Regions from separate parts of the Homo sapiens genome. Here region 2 is reported to be linked to region 1. The links are microRNA targets in miRTarBase. Many come from high-throughput screens and were not tested one by one. Region 1 holds a microRNA gene; the other region holds the end of a gene's coding sequence.
The links. Region 1 holds the annotated microRNA hsa-miR-6511a-3p (CCUCACCAUCCCUUCUGCCUGC, at 2,647-2,668, shown strand). A microRNA usually pairs through its seed, bases 2 to 8, with sites in the 3' UTR of a target mRNA and lowers its output. Matches are read on the target gene's strand: a 7mer-m8 pairs with bases 2 to 8, a 7mer-A1 pairs with bases 2 to 7 and ends in A, and an 8mer does both.

Region 2: the mRNA of ZNF324B is a reported target of hsa-miR-6511a-3p. The part of its 3' UTR that is shown has no 7-base or 8-base seed match.

What each region holds. Positions count from the first base shown.
Region 1 is chr16:16,366,273-16,373,392 of GRCh38, forward strand. MIR6511A3 (microRNA 6511a-3) reads left to right here and starts at 2,604; the gene lies at 2,604-2,670. It also overlaps the pseudogene PKD1P2. RefSeq lists enhancers at 2,589-3,501, 4,473-5,373.
Region 2 is chr19:58,455,608-58,462,710 of GRCh38, reverse strand. It overlaps ZNF324B (zinc finger protein 324B), which reads right to left. Exons shown (of 4, transcript NM_207395.3): 4 at 4,878-7,103. The coding sequence ends at 6,132. Among named protein-coding and RNA genes, the nearest start is that of ZNF324B, 7.5 kb to the right of the region's middle.

The DNA.
Region 1 (7,120 bases):
TCCCCCGCATCGGAGACCACGTGGTGAGCGTGCAGGGCAAAAACCACGTGAGCTGGGCCCAGGCGCAGGTGCGCATCGTGGTGCTGGAGGCCGTGAGCGGGCTGCAGGTGCCCAACTGCTGTGAGCCTGGCATCGCCATGGGCACTGAGAGGAACTTCACAGCCCGCGTGCAGCGCGGCTCTCGGGTCGCCTACGCCTGGTACTTCTCGCTGCAGAAGGTCCGGGGCGACTCTCTGTTCATCCTGTCGGGCCGCGACGTCACCTACACGCCGTGGCCGCGGGGCTGTTGGAGATCCAGGTGCGTGCCTTCAACGCCCTGGGCAGTGAGAACCGCACGCTGGTGCTGGAGGTTCAGGACGCCGTCCAGTATGTGGCCCTGCGGAGCGGCCCCTGCTTCACCAACCGCTTGGCGCAGTTTGAGGCCGCCACCAGCCCCAGCCCCCGGCGCGTGGCCTACCACTGGGACTTTGGGGATGGGTCCCCAGGGCAGGACACAGATAAGCCCAGGGCCGAGCACTCCTACCTGAGGCCTGGGGACTACCGCGTGCAGGTGAACGCCTCCAACCTGGTGAGCTTTTTCGTGGCGCAGGCCACGGTGACCGTCCAGGTGCTGGCCTGCCGGGAGCCGGAGGTGGACGTGGTCCTGCCCCTGCAGGTGCTGATGCGACGATCACAGCGCAACTGCCTGGATGCCTACGTTGACCTGCGCGACTGTGTCACCTACCAGACTGAGTACCGCTGGGAGGTGTACCGCACCGCCAGCTGCCAGCGGCCGGGGTGCCCGGCGCGTGTGGCCCTGCCCGGCGTGGACGTGAGCCGGCCTCAGCTGGTGCTGCCGCGGCTGGCGCTGCCTGTGGGGCACTACTGCTTTGTGTTTGTCGTGTCATTTGGGGACACGCCACTGGCACGGAGCATCCAGGCCAATGTGACGGTGGCCCCCGAGCGCCTGGTGCCCATCACTGAGGGTGGCTCCTACCGCGTGTGGTCAGACACACAGGACCTGGTGCTGGATGGGAGCGAGTCCTACGACCCCAACCTGGAGGACGGCGACCAGACGCCGCTCAGTTTCCAGTGGGCCTGTGTGGCTTCGACACAGGTCAGTGCGTGGCAGGGCCGTCCTCCCTGCCCCTCACCCGTCCACACCCATGAGCCCAGAGAACACCCAGCTTGCCACCAGGGCTGGCCCGTCCTCAGTGCCTGGTGGGCCCCGTCCCAGCATGGGGAGGGGGTCTCCCGCGCTGTCTCCTGGGCCGGGCTCTGCTTTAAAACTGGATGGGGTTCTCGGGCCACGTCGCCCCTTGTTCTCGGCCTGCAGAGGGAGGCTGGCGGGTGTGCGCTGAACTTTGGGCCCCGCGGGAGCAGCACGGTCACCATTCCACGGGAACGGCTGGCAGCTGGCGTGGAGTACACCTTCAGCCTCACCGTGTGGAAGGCCGGCCACAAGGAGGAGGCCACCAACCAGACGGTGGGTGCCGCCCGCCCCTCGGCCACTTGCCTTGGACAGCCCAGCCTCCCTGCTCATCTACTGTTTTCCGTGTTTTAGTGCTGGTGGAGGCCGCGCGCTCTCCCCTCTCTGTTTCTGATGCAAATTCTATGTAACACGACAGCCTGCTTCAGCTTTGCTTCCTTCCAAACCTGCCACAGTTCCACATACAGTCTTCAAGCCACATATGCTCTAGTGACAAAAGCTACACAGTCCCCCAGCAATACCAACAGTGAGGAAGAGCCCCTTCCCACCCCAGAGGCAGCCACTGTCCCCAGCCCATGTCCCTGTTGCTGGATGTGGTGGGCCGGTTCTCACCCTCATGCTCCCCACTCTGGACCGGCCAGGAGGCTTGGTGACCCTGAGCCCGTGGTGGCTGCTCCTGCTGCTGTCAGGCGGGGCCTGCTGGTGCCCCAGAGTGGGTGTCTGTTCCCCAGTCCCTGCTTTCCTCAACGGGCCTGATTGGGGGTCTGCCCAGAGGGGTCGTCTGAGGGGAGGGTGTGGGAGCAGGTTCCATCCCGGCTCAGCCTCCTGACCCAGGCCCTGGCTAAGGGCTGCAGGAGTCTGTGAGTCAGGCCTACGTGGCAACTGCGGTCCTCACACCCCCACATACGTCTGTTCCCACACGCATCCCCCCAGGGGCCCTCAGTGAGCATTGCCTGCCTCCTGCCAGGGTCCAGCTGGCTCCAGTACACCAGAACACACACCCCAGTGTCCTCTGCCCTGTGTATGCCCTTCCGCCGCCCAGGTTGGAAGGTGGCAAACCGGATGAGTATCCTGGGAGGGGGTGAGCTCACCGGCAGTGGCCAGGCCCCTGGGAAACCTGGAGTTTGGGAGCAGCATCCTCCACGGGTCCCCCAGACCTTCCAGCAGGCCAAATAGACCTGTGTTGGAGGTAACCCCACTCCCACGCCAGGTGCTGATCCGCAGTGGCCGGGTGCCCATTGTGTCCTTGGAGTGTGTGTCCTGCAAGGCACAGGCCGTGTACGAAGTGAGCCGCAGCTCCTACGTGTACCTGGAGGGCCGCTGCCTCAATTGCAGCAGCGGCTCCAAGCGAGGGGTGAGTGTTGAGCGGGGTGTGGGCGGGTTGGGGATGGGTCCCATGGCCGAGGGGACGGGGCCTGCAGGCAGAAGTGGGGCTGACAGGGCAGAGGGTTGCGCCCCCTCACCATCCCTTCTGCCTGCAGCGGTGGGCTGCACGTACGTTCAGCAACAAGACGCTGGTGCTGGATGAGACCACCACATCCACGGGCAGCGCAGGCATGTGACTGGTGCTGCGGCGGGGCGTGCTGCGGGACGGCGAGGGATACACCTTCACGCTGACGGTGCTGGGCCGCTCTGGCGAGGAGGAGGGCTGCGCCTCCATCCCCCTGTCCCCCAACCGCCCGCCGCTGGGGGGCTCTTGCTGCCTCTTCCCACTGGGCGCTGTGCACGCCCTCACCACCAAGGTGCACTTCAAATGCACGGGTGAGTGCAGGCCTGCGTAGGGGGAGCAGCGGGATCCCCCGACTCTGTGAGGTCACGGAGCCCTCCCGTGATGCTGTGGGGACCATCCCTCAGGCTGGCATGACGCGGAGGATGCTGGCGCCCCGCTGGTGTATGCCCTGCTGCTGCAGCGCTGTTGCCAGGGCCACTGCAAAGAGTTCTGTGTCTACAAGAGCAGCCTCTCCGGCTACGGAGCCGTGCTGCCCCCGGGTTTCAGGCCACACTTCGAGGTGGGCCTGGCCGTGGTGGTGCAGGACCAGCTGGGAGCCGCTGTGGTCGCCCTCAACAGGTGAGCCAGGCCGTGGGAGGGCGCCCCCGAGACTGCCACCTGCTCACCACCCCCCTCTGCTCGTAGGTCTCTGGCCATCACCCTCCCAGAGCCCAACGGCAGCGCAATGGGGCTCACAGTCTGGCTGCACCGGCTCACCGCTAGTGTGCTCCCGGGGCTGCTGCGGCAGGCCGATCCCCAGCACGTCATCGAGTACTCGCTGGCCCTGGTCACTGTGCTGAACGAGGTGAGTGCAGCCTGGGAGGGGACCTCACATCTGCTGCATGCGTGCTGGGGACCAAGACCTGTTCCCCTGCCTGGAGCTTTGCGGAGGGCTCATCCCGGGCCCCAGAGATAAATCCCAGTGACCCTGAAGCAGCACCCCGACGTTCCGCTCCCAGCAGCCACACCCACCGGGCCCTCTCCGGCGTCTGCTTTCCACAATGCAGCCCCCGCCCAGGAGGGCCCATGTGCTTACCCTGTTTTGCCCATGAAGAAACAGCTCAGTGTTGCGGGTCAGTGCCCACATCACACAGCATCTAGCACGTAACTGCACCCCGGGAGTCGTGGGCATCTGCTGGCCTCCTGCCGGCCTCCTGCCCTGCTGACAGCTTGCTGTGCCCCCTGCCTGCCCCAGTACGAGCGGGCCCTGGACGTGGCGGCAGAGCCCAAGCACGAGCGGCAGCGCCGAGCCCAGATACGCAAGAACATCACGGAGACTCTGGTGTCCCTGAGGGTCCACACTGTGGATGACATCCAGCAGATCGCTGCTGCGCTGGCCCAGTGCATGGTAGGATGGCCCCACATGCTCACCCCGCCCCGCATGCCTGCCAGGGTACTGGGTTCAGCCCCCCAGGGCAGACGGGCAGCTTGGCCGAGGAGCTGAGCCTCCAGCCTGGGCTCCTTCCTGCCGTGGCGTTCCTCGGTCTCTGACCTGCTTCAGTAGCCTCAGCCTTTCTGCTGTCCTGTGTGAACGCAGGGTGCCTCTCGGGGGACCCAGGGTGTAAAGAGGGGCCCAGATGTGGGGAGGGACTAAGAAGATGCTGCTCTGTGCCCTCCACTCTCCCCTCCCCTCCCCCTTCCCTCCCCTTTCTCCATCTCTCTCCCCTTTTCTCCATTTCCCCCCCGATCCTCCCCGTCCTTTTGTCCATTCCCCTCATCTTTCTTATCCCCCTTATCCTCCTTCCCCTCCCTTATCCTCCTTCCCCTCCCTTATCCCCCTTATCCCCCTTCCCCTCCCTTTCCCCCTGCTCCTCCTCTTCTCCCCTTTCTCTTTTCTCTACCCTTTTCCTTCCTTTTTCCTCCCTCTCCCCATCATCCCCCTCATCTTCGTCCTCATCCCCATCCCCTTCCCCCTCCCCCTCCACCACTCTCTCTCCAGCTTCCCCCTTCCTTCTGCCTGCACCTCGCTCTCTGCCCCCTCAGGTTCCCCCTTTCTCCCAGCCCCCACCCTCCAGCTCCCCCTTTTTGCCTGCCCCCACCCTCCCTCTGCCTCCCTGTCTCTGCACTGACCTCACGCCTGTCTGCAGGAGACCTCATCCACCTGGCCAGCTCAGACGTGCGGGCACCGCAGCGCTCAGAGCTGGGAGCCGAGTCACCATTGCGGATGGTGGCGTCCCAGGCCTACAACCTGACCTCTGCCCTCATGCGCATCCTCACGCGCTCCCGCGTGCTCAACGAGGAGCCCGTGACGCTGGCGGGCGAGGAGATCATGGCCCAGGGCAAGCGCTCGGACCCGCGGAGCCTGCTGTGCTATGGCGGCGCCCCAGGGCCTGGCTGCCACCTCTCCATCCCCTAGGCTTTCAGCAGGGCCCCGGCCAACCTCAGTGACGTGGTGCAGCTCGTCTTTCTGGTGGACTCCAATCCCTTTCTCTTTGGCTATATCAGCAACTACACCGTCTCCACCAAGGTGGCCTCGATGGCGTTCCAGACACAGGCCGGCGCCCAGATCCCCATCGAGCGGCTGGCCTCAGAGCGCGCCATCACCGTGAAGGTGCCCAACAACTCGGACTGGGCTGCCCGGGGCCACTGCAGCTCCGCCAACTCCGTTGTGGTCCAGCCCCAGGCCTCCGTCGGTGCTGTGGTCACCCTGGACAGCAGCAACCCTGTGGCCGTGCTGCATCTGCAGCTCAACTATACGCTGCTGGACGGTGTGTGCAGCGGGTGGGGCACACGCGGCCCCCTGGCCTTGTTCTTGGGGGGAAGGCGTTTCTCGTAGGGCTTCCATGGGTGTCTCTGGTGAAATTTGCTGTTTCATGGGCTGTTGGGGGCCTGGCCGGAGAGGAGCTGGGGGCCACGGAGAAGCAGGTGCCAGCTCTGGTGCAGAGGCTCCTATGGCCTTTCAGGCCCGTGGCAGAGGGTGGGCTCAGGAGGGCCATCGTGGGTGTCCCCCGGGTGGTTGAGCTTCCCGGCAGGCGTGTGACCTGCGCGTTCTGCCCCAGGCCGCTACCTGTCTGAGGAACCCGAGCCCTACCTGGCAGTCTACCTGCACTCGGAGCCCCGGCCCAATGAGCGCAACTGCTCGGCTAGCAGGAGGATCCGCCCAGAGTCCCTCCAGGGTGCCGACCACCGGCCCTACACCTTCTTCATTTCCCCGGGGTGAGCTCTGTGGGCCGGCCTGGCAGGGCAGGGCAGGGCATCATGGGTCAGCATTGCCCGGGTTACGGGCCCCGTGGGGACGGCAGGCAGCGAGGGGACTGGACCGGGTATGGGCTCTGGGACTCCGACATCCAACCTGGCGGAGCCTGGGCTCACGTCCACTGCCCCTTCCCTTCCCAGGACCAGAGACCCAGTGGGGAGTTACCGTCTGAACCTCTCCAGCCACTTCCGCTGGTCGGCGCTGGAGGTGTCCGTGGGCTTGTACACGTCCCTGTGCCAGTACTTCAGCGAGGAGGATGTGGTGTGGCGGACAGAGGGGCTGCTGCCCCTGGAGGAGACCTCGCCCCGCCAGGCCGTCTGCCTCACCCGCCACCTCACCGCCTTCGGCACCAGCCTCTTCATGCCCCCAAGCCATGTACGCTTTGTGTTTCCTGTGAGTGACCCTGTGCTCCTGGGAGCCTCTGCAGAGTCGAGGAGGGCCTGGGTGGGCTCGGCTCTATCCTGAGAAGGCACAGCTTGCACGTGACCTCCTGGGCCCGGCGGCTGTGTCTTCACAGGAGCCGACAGCGGATGTAAACTACATCGTCATGCTGACATGTGCTGTGTGCCTGGTGACCTACATGGTCATGGCCGCCATCCTGCACAAGCTGGACCAGTTGGATGCCAGCCGGGGCTGCGCCATCCCCTTCTGTGGGCAGCGGGGCCGCTTCAAGTACGAGATCCTCGTCAAGACAGGCTGGGGCCGGGGCTCAGGTGAGGGGCGCGGCGGGGTGGCAGGGCCTCCCCTGCTCTCACTGGCTGTGCTGGTTGCACCCTCTGGGAGTGAGTCTCGTCGCAGGCGTCAGAACAAGGCAGTTTTTGCAGTGCTGTGTGAAGGGCTCGTGTGTTCATCCTGGGAATGACCTCGTGAGCACTCACTGTCCCTGAGGACTAGGACAGCTCCTAGCTGGAAGTAGGTGCCAGTCAGTCAGGGTGGGCAGCCCACGTTCTGCACAGTAGCGTGGCCCCACAAGTGACATGAGCATCGCTACCACTGTGGGAGACCATGCATCCACCCGCGATCCTGACTGCATAGCTCGTCTCTCAGACGGAGGTGCCAGCACCCTCCCCGTGGCTGTTTCTTCAATACCTCCATTTTCCTTTATTGGAATTGCCCTTCTGGCATTCCCTTTTTGTTTTCATTTTTCTTTTTTTGGAGACGGAGTCTCACTCTGTTGCCCAGGCTGGAGTGCAATGGCGTGATCTTGGCTCACAGCAACTTCCAGCTCCTGGGTTTAAGCGATTCC
Region 2 (7,103 bases), not on the chromosome of region 1:
AGTTTTGCTCTTATTGCCCAGGCTGGAGTGCAATGGCTCGATCTCAGCTCACTGCAACCTCCGCCTCCTGGGTTCAAGCGATTCTTCTGCCTCAGCCTCCTGAGTAGCTGAGATTACAGACATGGGCCACCACACCCAGCAAATTTTGGATTTTTATTAGAGACGGGGTTTCTCCATGTTGGTCAGGCTGGTCTCCGACTCCCGACCTCAAATGATCTGCCTGCTTTGGCCTCTCAAAGTGCTGAGATTACAGGCATAAGCCACCGCGCCCAGCTGAGGACAAAACTTAAAATGTCCATGGTTAAAGATGCAATTGTCAAAAAATTTTTGGTCAATTTTTTGTGGCCTAAAACTCAACATAGGCCAGGTGCGGTGGCTCACGCCTGTTATCCCAGCACTTTGGGAGGCCGAGGCAGGCGGATCACGAGGTCAGGAGTTTGAGACCAGCCTGACCAACATAGAGAAACCCCATCTATGTAAAAAACTGGCACAGTTGAAAGGCAGAACATCTAGAGCTTTAAAAATCAAGGATTCCAGGCCAGGCGCAGTGGCTCACGCCTGTAATCCCAGCACTTTGGGAGGCCGAGGCGGGCGGATCACGAGGTCAGGAGATCGAGACCATCCTGGCTAACATGGTGAAACCCCGTCTCTACTAAAAATACAAAAAAATTAGCCAGGGGTGGTGGCGGGCGCCTGTAGTCCCAGCTACTCGGGAGGCTGAGGCAGGAGAATGGCGTGAACCCGGGAGGTGGACCTTGCAGTGAGCTGAGATCACGCCACTGCACTCCAGCCTGGGCAACAGAGCGAGACTCCATCTCAAAAAATAAAAATAAATAAATAAAATCAAGGATTCCACTTTAAAATGGAATCTTGAGGACCCCACAAGATGGAAATACCACAGGACAGGGCTGTGTTTCCACAGTGCACCTCACTGCATGGACATTCCCTGATGCTGGTGGGACACCCAGCACCAATTAGCCCACTCTGTGATCTGTGATCAGCCCATCTCCCAAAGGATTCTTCCCCCTTGGTGATGAGTGTTTCTATAAGTCTCCAAGTGTTCAAACCATACTTTTCTTATTTAAACATGCAAAGGAATTAGTACACCCTGCAGTAATAACCACTCACTGAAAACAACTGCTATCAGCCAAAACTGCAGCCCTTGCCAGTAACTTGCCAGCCAGTGCACACCCAAAGATCATGTTCTTTCATAGAACAAAGTAACCCTTGGTACCCCCCAAGCCAAAAGGTCAGAGAACTCAGTGTAAAAGAGATCAGAGCTTTAGACCTAAGATAAACTGCCTGCTACACTTAGGATTCCATGAGGAAGACAGAAGACTCCATAAAAGGTGTATGTGACACTTTACTGTGTTCCTCAAAGGGTCTCAGAGATATTAGAAGACTCCTCTAGATTTCTTTATGTGGTATCAAAGATAGCTAAAGGAAGAAAAAGTAGAAGAAAATGGGAGAGCTCTAAGCCAATTTGGGGAGATTTTAAGTTTTTCAGAAGGCCAATAAAACTTTACATCATACTAACAAGAAAAGAAGCAAACAAAGGGACTAAACATATGTAAAAAGGGGTTTCAGTCAACAGAAAAAAAAAAAATTCCCAGAAACAGGCTCCAAATGAGAAAAAGCAGAAAGGTATTTTTTCTTAAAAAAAAAAAAAAAGCCTGAATATCAGCTTTTAATTAAGCTGACATCTGACCATAGAATTCATTGTATTTTATTTACTTACTTTTGTGACGGAGTCTCACTCTGTCGCCCAGGCTGGAGTTTGCTATAGTTTCATAGCTCACTGCAACCTCCGCCTCCCAGGTTCAAGTGATTCTCCTGCCTCAGCCTCCCAAGTAGCTGGGACTACAGGCACGCACCACCATGCCTGGCTAATTTTTGTATTTTTCAGTAGAGATGGGGTTTCGCCATGTTGGTCAGGCTGGTCTCGAACTCCCAACCTCAGGTGATCCGCCCACCTTGGCCTCCCAAAGTGCTGGAATTACAGGCATGAGCCACTGTGCCTGGCCTATAGAGCTCTTTTTAAAAAACCTTTCAAATATCTTATCAGAGTATAGCCTGCACAAACAGAAAGTAGGCCTCCCATCCAATTTGTCTGGTTTTAGAACAAACATATTAAGTTTCCTATTGTGCACACAAATATATTACTTTAGGAATTTCAAAAGATCTCCGTTTTGGCCACTGCATTTTAGGGTCATCTCGAGTGACCTGGGTCCATTTACCTAAGTTTTTGGAAATAGGATCTCCATAGGTTTCGAAGGGTGGGGGGGTTGCTCCTTAAGGGAAAGCTCAGTTTTCATGAGCAGTTTCAAATAATTGTAGAAATACCTTTTCAAAAGTGACCAAGGTTAGTACAGTGTATTTAGACGAAGTGTGTTGCTTTGTGAGCATCACTCCTCAATGAGTCACCAGTGAGTTGTGATTCACTCTTTTATGTGTCTTGGAATCTGTGATCACCTGTGTTGGCAGAGTGCTCAAGGTACCAGATGAACAACCTTTATGTGAATCTTCTGGCTGAGCTGAAAGCCCCTGAAGGTGTTCTTCTTGCAGAAGAAGTAGGGAGACCCTATGAGGCCACTATGCATCATGAACAAACATCCCGACACCTTCATAAATCTCTAGTCACCTAGAATTGGGTTTAGAGGGAGCAAGTGCCTCTTCACTCAGGGACAAGAGAACTGATATGGTTTGGATGTGTGTCTCCTCCAAATCTCATGTTGAAATGTGATCTCCAGTGTTGGACATGGGGCCTAGTGGGAGGTGTTGGATCATGAGGTATATTAGGCCATTCCTGCATTACTATAAAGAAATACCTGAGGCTGTGTAATTTATAAAGAAGAGAGGTTTAATTGGATCACTGTTCTGAGGGCTGTACGAGCATGGCTTCAGAATCTGCTTCTTGCTAGGTTCTCAAGAAGCTTACAATCATGGCAGAAGGTAAAGGGGGAGGAGGCATCTCACCTGGTGAGAGCAGGAGCAAGAGAGAAAGGAAGGAGGTGCCACAGACTTTTAAATAACCAAATCTTGTGAGAACTCACTACCTTGAGGACAGCACCAAGAGATTCAAGAGCGATCCACCCCCATGACCCAAACACCTCTCACCAGGCCCCATCTCCAACATTGAGGATTACATTTCAACATGAGATTTGGAGGGGACAAACATCCAAACTATAGTATGGGGGCAGATTCCTCATGAATAGCTTGCCACCATCCCCCTTGGTGAGAAGTGAGCTCTTGCTCTGAGTTCATGAAAGATTTGGTTGTTTAAAAGTGTGTGATGGGCTGGGTGCGGTGGCTGACACCTGTAATCCCAACACTTTGGGAAGCTGAGGCGGGTGGATCACTTGAGGCCAGGAATTTGAGACTAGCCTGGCCAACATGGCAAAACCCTGTCTCTGCTAAAAATATTATACAAAAATTAGCTGACATGGTGGTGCACACCTGTAATCCCAGCTACTCAGGAGGCTGAGGCAGGAGAATCACTTGAACCCAGGAGGCAGAGGTTGCAGTGAGCTGAGATCGTGCCATTGCACCCCAGCCTGGGCAACAAGAGCAAAACTCCATTTCAGAAAAAAAAAAAAAAAAGTGGGCCGGGCGCGGTGGCTCACGCCTATAATCCCACCACTCTGCTGTGAGGCCAAGGCGGGCGGATCACAAGGTCAGGAGATCGAGACCATCCTGGCTAACACGGTGAAACCCCGTCTCTACTAAAAATATTAAAAATTAGCTGGGCGTGGTGGCGGGCACCTGTAGTCCCAGCTACTCGGGAGGCTGAGGCAGGAGAATGGCGTGAACCCGGGAGGCGGAGGTTGCAATGAGCCGAGATCGTGCCACTGCACTCCAGCCTGGACAACAGAGCGAGACTCCTCAAAAAAAAAAAAAAAAATGTGTGACACTTCCCCCCCGCCTTGCTTCCTGTCTTGCCATGTGATATGCCAGCTCTTCCTTCATGTTCCATCATGATTGCAAGCTTCCTGAGGTCCCACCAGAAGCCATGCAGATGCTGGTGCCATGGCTGTACATCCTGCAGAACCATGAGCCAATTAATCCTCTTTTCTTTATAAATTACCCAGCCTTAGGTGTTCCTTTATAGTGACACAAAACAGACTAATAGAAGAACTCACCCTCATGAACCTTTCAGTTTGAAACAGAAATTGGTTACCATTGAAAAGACAAGACTGAGTTACAAGCAATAGGAAACAGCTGCAACTTTAAAATCATGGTATGTAGGCAGGCGCAGTGGCTCACGCCTGTAATCTCACCACTTTGGGAGGCCAAGATGGGCCGATCACTTGAGGTCAGGAGTTTGAGACCAGCCCAGCCAACATGGTGAAACCCCGTCTCTACTAAAAATACAAAAATTAGCCAGGTATGGTGGTGCAAGCCTGTAATCCCAGCTACTGGAGGGGCTGAGGCAGGAGAATGGCTTGAACCCAAGAGGCAGAGCCGAGGTTGCTCCACTGCACTCCAGCCTGGGCGACAGACTGAGACGCTTCATGAAAAACAAACGCAGTGGCTCACGCCTGTAATCCCAGCACTCTGGGAGGCCAAGATGGGCAGATCACCTGAGGTTGGGAGTTCGAGACCAGCCTGACCAACATGGAGAAACCCTGTCTCTACTAAAAATACAAAATTAGCCGGGCATGGTGGTGGGCGCCTGTAATCCCAGCTACTCAGAAGACTGAGGCAGGAGAATCACTTGAACCTGGGAGACGGAGGTTGCGGTGAGCCGAGATTGTGCCATTGCACTCCAGCCTGGGCAAGAAGAGTTGCCTTGAGACTCTGTCTCAAAAACAAACAAACAACTGAATCATACCCTGGAATAGAGACAGGAGGCTGTGCTGTGGAGGTCCACACGGCTGTAAAGGAAACTACATCTATTTGAAGTTGCAAATACTAGTCTTTTTTTTTCTCCATTGAAAAGACCATTAATTTCTTGGAGGTGAGGTCTCAGGTAAGGATGGGGCCTAGTAGGCTTAAGGCCACAGGAAGCAAATGACCCCCAGTCTACCCTTTTGTCTCTGCCATGCAGGCCCATCACACTGGGTTGGGGAGGTCCTCAGGAGGCTGTCACACATGGCCTTAGGTAATGGCAAGTCCTTCCTATTCAGCTCTCTGTCCAGCCTCCAATTGAGGAGGCATAACAAGGGAAAGGTGAGATGGAGGGGGTGGGGGTGGGGGCGGGGATCGGCCACCAAATCCAGCAAAAATGAGCAGCTCCACCTTATCTGCTCCAAAGCTATCACTGTCTCCACAGGTGTAAAGGCTCCTCCTCACATCGACTTTTGTAAATGAGTGAGCGACAGGCCTTGGCCAAGCTGAGACTTGGACGAAAACCTGAACGAGTGCCACTGGAAAGCCATCATCCTAGGTTTGTCCTTCCAATGCTGAGAACCATGGGCATTCCTCTCCTGAGTCAGCTGTGTGACCCCAGGCCAGGCCCTCACACCTGGCTGACCAGAGCACAGCCCAGGAGCTGGCAGTGAGCACACATTGACTCTCATTAGGATCCCGTCTGTCAGCATCTGCAAACATGATGCTGAGTTGACCCAAAGCTTTTCTTTTTCCGAGGAGGAGGCTGACACTCACAGGCCACACCCTGATCCCCAGTCCCCTGTAGTCTCCTGTTTGCTGAGATGGCCCCCAGGAAGCCTTGAATAGAGGCCTCAGGGGGAAAATGTCCTCAGCGTCCGTCTAGCGGCCAGTTTGTGTGCAGACATCATAAGTTTCTCTAGGTCATCCTACCCCATGTCCGCATCCCCCTCACCTCAGCATCCACTCTCATAACACATGAAGTAGCACCACCATGCAGCGCTGCCTTTGTCGGCGTCCTATGGCCCCAACTACAGCCTCAGCCCCACCAGAGTTCCAGCTGACATGTCCTCCCTCTGATGTTTCTGCAGTGTTACCTCTTTGAGGATGGAGGTGTGAGCTATGACTAAACTGGCAAATCCTGTCCCCACCTGCAAATGGAACCACAGCCAAAGGGTCTCCCTCGTCCCTGACTCTCAGGCACAGAGCTTTTCCCCATCGTGGATCTGAAGAGCACTCGGACCCTTTAGCTGTGGAAGGGATTCACAGAAGGCCAAGAAAGGGTTGGGCTGCGACCTGTGACCTCAGACCTTCGCTGGCTTCAGGACTGGGCTTGGCTTCCCTCCCCGGCGCACCTTCCGATGATGTCCCTGAAGGAAACCTGGCCCCGGGGTGCAGTCTGGTGCTGCGGCATTGGTCTTCTCTGTGGTGTGGATCCTCTGGTGGTGCAAGAGGGCAGGGCGCTCACGGAAGGCGCGGCCACACTGCGTGCACACGAAGGGCTTCTCGCCCGTGTGAATGCGCCGGTGGCTGAGCAGCACGGCGCCCTTGGCGAAACCCTTGCCACAGTCCACGCAGCGGAAGGGCCGCTCGCCCGTGTGCAGGAGCTGGTGCTGGGTGAGGTTGGAGCTGCGGCTAAAGGAGCGGCCGCACTGGGCGCAGGCGAAGGGCTTCTCGCCTGTGTGCACGCGCTGGTGCAAAAAGAGCGAGGAGCCCTGGCTGAAGGCAGCACCGCAGAGCGCGCATACGAAGGGCTTCTCGCCTGTGTGCGTACGCTCGTGCTGGATCAGGTGCGAGTTGCGGCAGAAGCGGCGGCCACACTGTGCGCAAGCATAAGGACGCCCACCCGCGTGGATCTTGCGGTGCTGGCTGAGGTTGGAGCCGTGGCTGAAGGCCTTGCCGCACTCGGAGCAGCGGAAGGACTTCTCGGCCGTGTGGATGCGCTGGTGCCGCACCAGCGAGGAGCTATGCCGGAAGGCCTTGCCGCACACGGGGCACGCGTAGGGCGTCTCGCCGCTGTGGATGCGCTGGTGCTGCGTCAAGTGCGACGTCTGGCTGAAGGCCTTGCCGCACTGGGTGCACTCGTAGGGCCGCTCCCCGGTGTGGGTGCGTAGGTGCTTGAGGAGGTCGGAGCTCTTCACGAACACTTTGCTGCACGCCCTGCATTCGAAGGACTTCTCCCCAGCGTGAAGAGCCTCGCCCAGCTCGTCCCAGGTCGAGGGCTCCTGGCCACCGAGGAGTCTATGAGGCTCCTGCCAAGCTGCGCCCATTCTGCG